Linked DNA regions of Homo sapiens. The protein of the gene in region 1 purifies or fractionates together with the protein of each later gene. This does not show direct contact. Each region holds a gene or a part of one and is shown in the gene's direction. Other genes may lie near its edges. The genes, in order: LRRC56 and POMP.

Region 1 (3,814 bases):
GCCCTGCCCCACGGTGGGTCTGGGAAAGGGAGCCAGGGAAAGAGCTGGCCGGAAGGAAACACTGGACCCAGACCTGCCCTCCCTCCCCCTCCCCCTCCCCCTGCAGGTGCCCAGGGGCTACAACTACAGGGCAGAGGTGAGGAAGCTCATTCCCCAGCTGCAGGTCCTGGACGAAGTGCCGGCCGCACACACAGGCCCACCGGCCCCCCCGCGGCTGAGCCAGGACTGGCTTGCGGTGAAGGAGGCCATCAAGAAGGGCAACGGCCTTCCCCCGCTGGGTACGGCAGCTGCGCCCGGAGGACCCACTGCTGAGCCCCAGCTCCCCCCAGGAAGAGGCCCCCACCCCAGGCTTCTCAGAAACGGATAGCCACATCTCATGCGCTTCTCCAGCCTTGACCCCGGTCCCCAGAGCTGTGCACACCCGGCCCCAGGCCAGGACACTGTCTCTGAGCAGCCCACAGAGGGAGAGGAAGGTCTGAAGATGAGGGCCTCTCTAGAAGGCTGCAGCGTGAGAGGCCAGCCTCAGGCCATGCAGCATGGGGATTGGGGCCCCTGGTCTGTGGACAGAGTCTGGGGGGCGCTCTCAGGCTGGGCCTTGGTGACCTCTGCTTCTGAACCTCGGGCAGACTGTCCCCGTGGAGCCCCCATCCGGAGACTTGACCCCGAGCTGTCCCTGCCTGAGACGCAGTCCCGGGCCTCCAGGCCCTGGCCCTTCTCCCTGCTGGTCCGTGGGGGCCCCCTGCCTGAAGGCCTGCTTTCTGAGGACCTGGCCCCAGAAGATAACACCAGCAGCCTCACCCATGGTAACTGACTTGCCTCAAAGCTGACCCTGCAGCCCCTCGGCCCCGAACCAGGCCCAGCCATGCTGTCTCTTGCAGGTGCTGGCCAAGTCCTCTGTGGGAACCCCACCAAGGGCCTGCGGGAGCGTAGGCACCAGTGCCAGGTACAGCCCACAGGGACCAGCCCCCCACGAGAACCAGTGTCCAGGGTTGCGGCCCTGACAGTGCCCTGCCCTGCCGCCATTCCAGGGCCAGAATCCCTAAAGCAGTCCCTTTTCCTCCCCAGGCCAGGGAGCCCCCCGAGCAGCTGCCCCAACACAGGCCAGGAGATCCGGCCGCCAGCACTTCCACCCCAGAGCCTGACCCTGCAGACAGCTCTGACTTCCTGGCCTTGGCTGGGCTCAGGGCCTGGAGGGAACATGGCGTGCGGTGGGTGTCCCTCCAGCTCTTCCACTGGGTGTGTCCTGTCCCGTGGGGAAATCAGGGCTGGGGCTACCTTGGCTGAGTCATCCCCAGTCCCAAGGCTCGTGGACCATCCCTGCATGTCCTGTCCCGTGGGGGGATCAGGGCTGGGGCTACCTTGGCTGAGTCATCGCTGGTCCCAAGGCTCGTGGACCATCCCTGTGTGTCCTGTCCCGTGGGGGGATCAGGGCTGGGGCTACCTTGGCTGAGTCATCCCCAGTCCCAAGGCTCATGGACCATCCCTATGTGTCCTGTCCCGTGGGGGGATCAGGGCTGGAGCTTCTCCTCCTCTCCCCACCCTAGCCCCCTCCCCTATAGGCACCCGGAGTCCCAACAGGAAGGGGCTGTAGCCCCCTGGGGCCCACGGAGGGTCCCTGAAGAGCAAGTGCACCAGGCAGAGCCCAAGACTCCCTCCAGCCCCCCAAGCCTGGCCTCAGGTACTGAGCCTGCCCGCCTGCCCCCCAGTGCCTGGGAGTGACCAACACCCCACTTCTATAGGGGGGCCCTTACCCCAGATCAGATGTGTCAACCTGGCCCTGCTTCCTCAGCCATGCTCTGAGAGGGACTGTAACAGGGAGGCCCCCTTCTGGGGGTGGGGGGCTCACGACCAAGGGAGGCCCAACCCAAGTCCTCTCCCAAGCCACGGTCCAATCCCTGTGACCTTGTGTGCCACCCGGGCTGGACGAAAGAGAGGCGTTCCACAAAAGGGGGTATGAACAGAGTCCAGAGGAGTCGGGACAGAAAGAAGGAGCCACCCCAGGGCACCAGCAGGCAGAACATGGCCACTGGGCAGCTTTCAGGGACACAGGCATGAGTCCGGGGGCTGGGAGGAAAGGCGGCCAGCAGCCCCACTGGGAGACCAAGGCAGGAGGGTGCTGCCGCTTCACCCTGAAGATGGCACGCGCACTTGGGGACATAGAATTAAGCCATGCAGTGCCCTTTACGAAGGACACTGACTTCAGTGTGATCACAGCTGCAAAGCAGAGAGGACCCTCCCTCAGCGGGCAGGCAGGCCGGGCAGGGGGCAGTGTAAGCAGGGGCGACCCCACGGTGGGCAGCTGACCCTCCTCTGTGCAGGAGCCTGGTTAAGGGGGCTGGGATGGGCAGGGAACAGGGCAGGCCAAGCCTCTGCTCTTCCATATGGTGGTGGGTGTCTGTGGAGGGGGCAGACAGAGGGGTCAACAGCTGGTTACCTAGTGGCCGTGACCTGCAGGGGTGGAGGGAGGGCAGGCAGGGCGGCCAGGAGGAGGGGAGCTGCAGTGGCCTCAGGGCAGGGTCAGGACAAAGGCATGCCAGGGCTCCAGACACCGGTGGAGGCGGGTGCTGGGGGACCCAAGGCTTGGGAACCGGCCCGGGGCGGTCAGCCAGTGAACAGGCTCTCAGGGTCAGGACACAGATGACCGAGGGTCAGAGCCAGGCCTTGTGGTCTCCTTCTCAGGGACAGGACACAGAGGACCCAGGGCCAGAACCAGGCTTCGTGGCCTCCTTGCCTGCCCCAGAGGTGGGCCCGCCCATGCGAGTCAGGGGTCACAGGGCTGGGAACACAGAAAGTGGGGTGCAGGGGTGCTGCTGCCTGTGGACCCCCAAGGACCACTGCCTCGGGGCTGCAGGGCCACGGGTGGGCTGTGGCCTCCCCACCGGGTGACTCCCTTCCCTGACAGCCTTTCTGACGTCCCATCACTCTGCTTGCTTTCTAGAGCCCTCCGGGACCTCGAGCCAGCACCTGGTCCCTTCACCTCCCAAGCACCCAAGGCCACGAGATTCTGGCAGCAGCTCCCCGCGGTGGTCGACAGACCTGCAGTCCAGGGGGCGTCGGCTCCGAGTCCTGGGCAGCTGGGGGCCTGGCCTGGGTGATGGGGTGGCTGCAGTGCCTGTCCTGAGAGCCCTGGAGGTGGCCTCACGCCTGAGCCCTCGAGCCCAGGGATGTCCTGGCCCAAAGCCAGCACCAGATGCAGCAGCTAGACCTCCCAGGGCAGCTGAACTCTCTCACCCCAGCCCCGTCCCCACTTAATATAGCCCCCACTGCCAGGCTTCCCTGTGCTGGGGCCACGACTTGCCCACATATGTGGTCACAGAGCACAGAATACCTGGGCGGGTGTGTTGGGGGGTGGAAGGAGTGCCTGGCCCTGGGGAGGACCCTCTTGGTGGAGGGGAGTGGGGGACTGGGACCAGCCAGGGAGGCAGCAGAGGCTGGAACCCAGTTTAGGCCCCCAACTGGGTTTGGCCTGGGGAGGGAGGGTCCGGCTCCCCAGCCCTTCCTTAGGGCCAGGCTTTCCCGCGGGCACGGGGGTGGGGGGTGGTCACCCGAGCAGGCCTGTGAGAGGCCTCTCCTGCTAGAATTGGGCATGGCCGAGGGGCAGGGGCTGGAGCTGCGAGTCCACCACTCCCTTGCCGGCCCCAGGGTAAGAGCCACCTCCTAGGCCGCAGTGGCCCAAGGTCCCAGCTGCTCGCCTGAGGCCGCCGGGGGTGCGGTCCAGGCCTCCCGTCTCCGGGGGATCTGTAGGGTTCCCGCACTGCGATAGGGCGGCCCGTTCCCTCCTCTTGGCGCAGGACGCCCCGGAACCCAAACCAAC
Region 2 (3,814 bases), on another chromosome or scaffold:
TTTTGTATAAAGGATCTAACTAAAAAATAAGATTGTCTGTGGTAACATTGATCCCTGAAACTGTTTCTTAAGTGGACTATTGAGTGAGCTGTGAGCATTTAATAGGGTAAGCAGTGATCATCAGCATCTGAATGAACTCAGCAAATTAATTTTAGTTCACTCTTTTACTCAGTTGCCAAATGGGTCAGTCAAGGGATCAAATTATCTGACAAGGGATAAGATTGAGGATTACATGGTGGATTATTAACCGAGTGAAAGTAGTGTAGGGTAAAGTATATGAGGTTGGTAACTGTACCCAGAGAACGGTGATTAGGGAATAGTCAATTTGGAGGGAATATTTTGATAGGGCTTTTTGGCCTCTGTCTACATCTTAGGTAGTCAGGTGGACACATAGGAAGGATAAGTATTTTTCAAGGACTTGTGGGCAACCAAAGAAAGAATGTATATTAGGTTTTTGGAAAAAAGGTTGAGAAGGATAGTTCATTCTGTTGAATAATTGAACTATATCATGGTGATAAAATAGACCAAAGTCTAGACCAAAATTTAAGGAAAACATTTATAGAGGTGAGTGTGAAGTTCTGCGTTTGGATTCAAAAAATGAATTCTACACCTTTGGGCAGGGTAAAGTGACTTGCTCTGTAAAACTTGACTATTTTAATTGACTGTATACTCACTATAAGCCAGCAGATTACGTTAGTTACTAAAAAGAAAGGTTAATGCAGTCTTGGGCTTTGTTAATAAGATGGGGCTCAAATCAAGGGAGATTATATTATTTTCCTGTGTATTAGTCTGGCTATTAGATTTGGAATATTGGTTTAGTTCTAAGCAATACATATTAAGAGAAACTGACAAATCTGAGTGAGACTAGGTGGAACTGTGAAGAATCTAAAAACTTCAGAGATCTTTTTGAGACTTACATACATCTACTGCATCTCTTCTTCTTTAATCATTTAGCCAGCTAATGGCAGTCTCACTCTTTATGTGACTCTTACTGTCTATTATAAATCCTTCAGCATGGATTGTGTAGTTGAACTATGTGGGCACCCCACTTTGCTAAGTAAACTTGGGGCATATTGCTTAATTTTCTTTAAGCCTTAGTCTTCTCATCTGGAGTTAGTAATAGCCCATCCTTGGCATATTGCTGGCCTCTAGTAGCTCTGCATGATTGGGAGCTTCAGTGGTGATAGTGATGGAAGATGGCCATCATCATTTGTACCAGTGGTTCTCAACTAGGGGAGGATCATCCTCCTGCCCCCTACAAGGGAACAGTTGGCAAAGTCTGAGGACATTTTAGGTTGTCACAAGTGGTGCGGTGGGGGATGGGGGGATGTAATATTGGCATCTATGGGGTAGAGGCCAGGGATGCTGCCAAACATCCTACAGTACACAGGACAGCCTGCCACAGTGAAGAATTATCTGGCCCAAGAAATCAGTAGTGCGGAGGGTTGAGATACATACATAATGTCTTCCAAACTGGATTATAATCTCCAAGGTAGGCTGTTCAGTTTTGTTGTGTGTTGCCACAGAGCCTAATTTTGCACACGGTTGCTAACTTACATGTTGATTGATAATTACAGTATTAATATCACATTACAAGATGGCTGTATTCATCAAAATTTACATAAATTGAGTTATTATACATAAAATTACATTTACTGCTGGGTGTGGTGGGGTGTGCCTGTAGTCCCAGCGGCGTGGGAGGCTGAGGCGGGGGATTGCTTGAGCCTGGTAATTCGAGGCTGTAGTGCTCTATAATCGTGCCTGTGAATAGCCACTGCACTCCAGCCACATAGCAAGACCCGTCTCTTAGAATAAAATTGTATTATCATGAGGATAAGCCAATATTTAAAGCAAACCCTTCACTTAGAACTTCAGATCATATACCCATAATAAAATACTGCAGGTTTTCCCTAAGGACCATCTGTCAAAATTTGCTGTGTAAAGCTAAAGTAATTAAAAAGCATTTGGTTAGTCACCTTACTTTCAAACTTCATAGTCATATCCCAAGTAGGTGCTAATCTCTCAATAGATTTTTGTTCAAAATGACCTTTTTGATTACTATTAGAAGACAATGTTATCAAGAGAGTAGCGTGTAATAAAAAATGACAAGAAATGACTTTACCTCATTATAATCACCTTAGCTCAGACAAATCTTTGTAACAGTCTGTTTGCATATTACATTCACTATCCTTAGGAGCCATTTTTGGAAACTGTTTTAGAATCCATGAGTCAAGTCGATTCATTTTGCCTGAAATACATTAAGTTATGGCCAAAGTTCCCTAAATGTAATATCAGTACTTAGTGAAAGTATGATCCAGGAAAAATTGCTGATTAGTACCCAATACAAATTGAATAAACTTTTGAGAGATGTTTGTTTTTCCCCTGAGGCAAGTACCAAAAATAAGTGGAGTTTAAACATAGTTTAATTAACAGGATGATTTAGTGGTCAGATTATTTCTTTTGCTGAATCCTTTTAAATATATGCCTTCATACTTAGAAATTAACTATTTTTGTCAGTGGATGTGACATTTTCTGGATCTCAAATTACACCTTTGCTAGTTTTGCAGTACTTTTAATCAAAAGCGCTAAAATATGATTGTCTTGTAAATCTACTTTTGAATAGGAGACACATTCCTTTACTTTTATAAATTTGGAATTTTGGTAGTAATTTTACTCTGGTAAAAGTACACCTGCATGCTAAATGAAATATAGACATATGTGGTCTAAAATTTGTCAGAAAAAATTAGTAAAAATACTTAGTTTTTATTACAGGTATGGATATTAAAATTCTTCATCTAACTATTGTGTTATATATATGCCACTGCTAACTGTTTTGAAAGCAGAGTATTGAGTGTAATGTTTAAAATTACATTGTCTTTTGTAGTTCCAGCTCAACCAAGATAAAATGAATTTTTCCACACTGAGAAACATTCAGGGTCTATTTGCTCCGCTAAAATTACAGATGGAATTCAAGGCAGTGCAGCAGGTGAGTTGATGGATCTCTGTTGCATATGTGTCGATATCATTCATGAGGAATCTTCTGTTTTCATAACAGCTATTTATACCTTATCTACCTTACAACCTATTCTACTTCCCTCCCCCTTTTTAGGGTATGACCTTGATTTCTACTTCATAGAGGGAAAAAAGAAGTCATTAAATGGAAAACTTCAAATTACAGGCTCAGTGTCTGAAAACTTACCTGCATCTGCTTTCATGTTTTTCTGGGTTTTTTTTTTATGTATTACATTGAATTTGAGATCCCTCTAAGAATATCCAAGTGGAGGTGTCAAGTATACAATTTGTATATAGTTGAATATACCTGTTTCTAAGGAATAAGTACTTGGAAAATGTCCTTCCAATTATGTAAGAACCACCCTCCTACCTGTGCTTTGGATTCTATCCTGTTACATTACTTCAGGAAAATCCCTTTATCAATGATGCCTTCTCAAGCTGATATCTTTAACCCCTCTCTGCTTGCTCTGTCTCAGCAGTAGCATTTGAACCGCTGTTGTCTTTTAAAACAAAAAAAAATTGTATCAATTTCAAATTCCTTTATAGTAACTTGTCTCTCATTGAGTGTGCTTTTGCTTCTTGAAAAGTTGTCTACATTTGCTTTCTATACTCCTTTCCCTGCTATTTATTTAACCCACTGTTTCTGTCTCCCATGACACCAATGAAACTGCTCCTGAACAATGTGGACATTTTTACCTTCACTTTACTTCATCTCCCTGTAGTATTTGACACTAATAATGGCTTCTTCCTTTTTCCCTTGGCTTTTATGTTTTTACTTTGTATTTATTTTTTTGATACAGGA

What was found.
Region 2: the proteins of LRRC56 (region 1) and POMP purify together in Homo sapiens (affinity purification with mass spectrometry; one large-scale study listed by BioGRID and IntAct). This does not show direct contact.

The regions. Positions count from the first base shown.
Region 1 is NC_000011.10:551,025-554,838, forward strand, and holds part of LRRC56 (leucine-rich repeat-containing protein 56), read left to right. Parts: intron 1-106; coding exon 107-278; intron 279-626; coding exon 627-803; intron 804-878; coding exon 879-943; intron 944-1,065; coding exon 1,066-1,208; intron 1,209-1,544; coding exon 1,545-1,678; intron 1,679-2,938; coding exon 2,939-3,252; 3' UTR 3,253-3,814. UniProt on the Homo sapiens protein: Required for the assembly of dynein arms.
Region 2 is NC_000013.11:28,665,589-28,669,402, forward strand, and holds part of POMP (proteasome maturation protein), read left to right. Parts: intron 1-2,884; coding exon 2,885-2,986; intron 2,987-3,814. UniProt on the Homo sapiens protein: Molecular chaperone essential for the assembly of standard proteasomes and immunoproteasomes. Degraded after completion of proteasome maturation. Mediates the association of 20S preproteasome with the endoplasmic reticulum.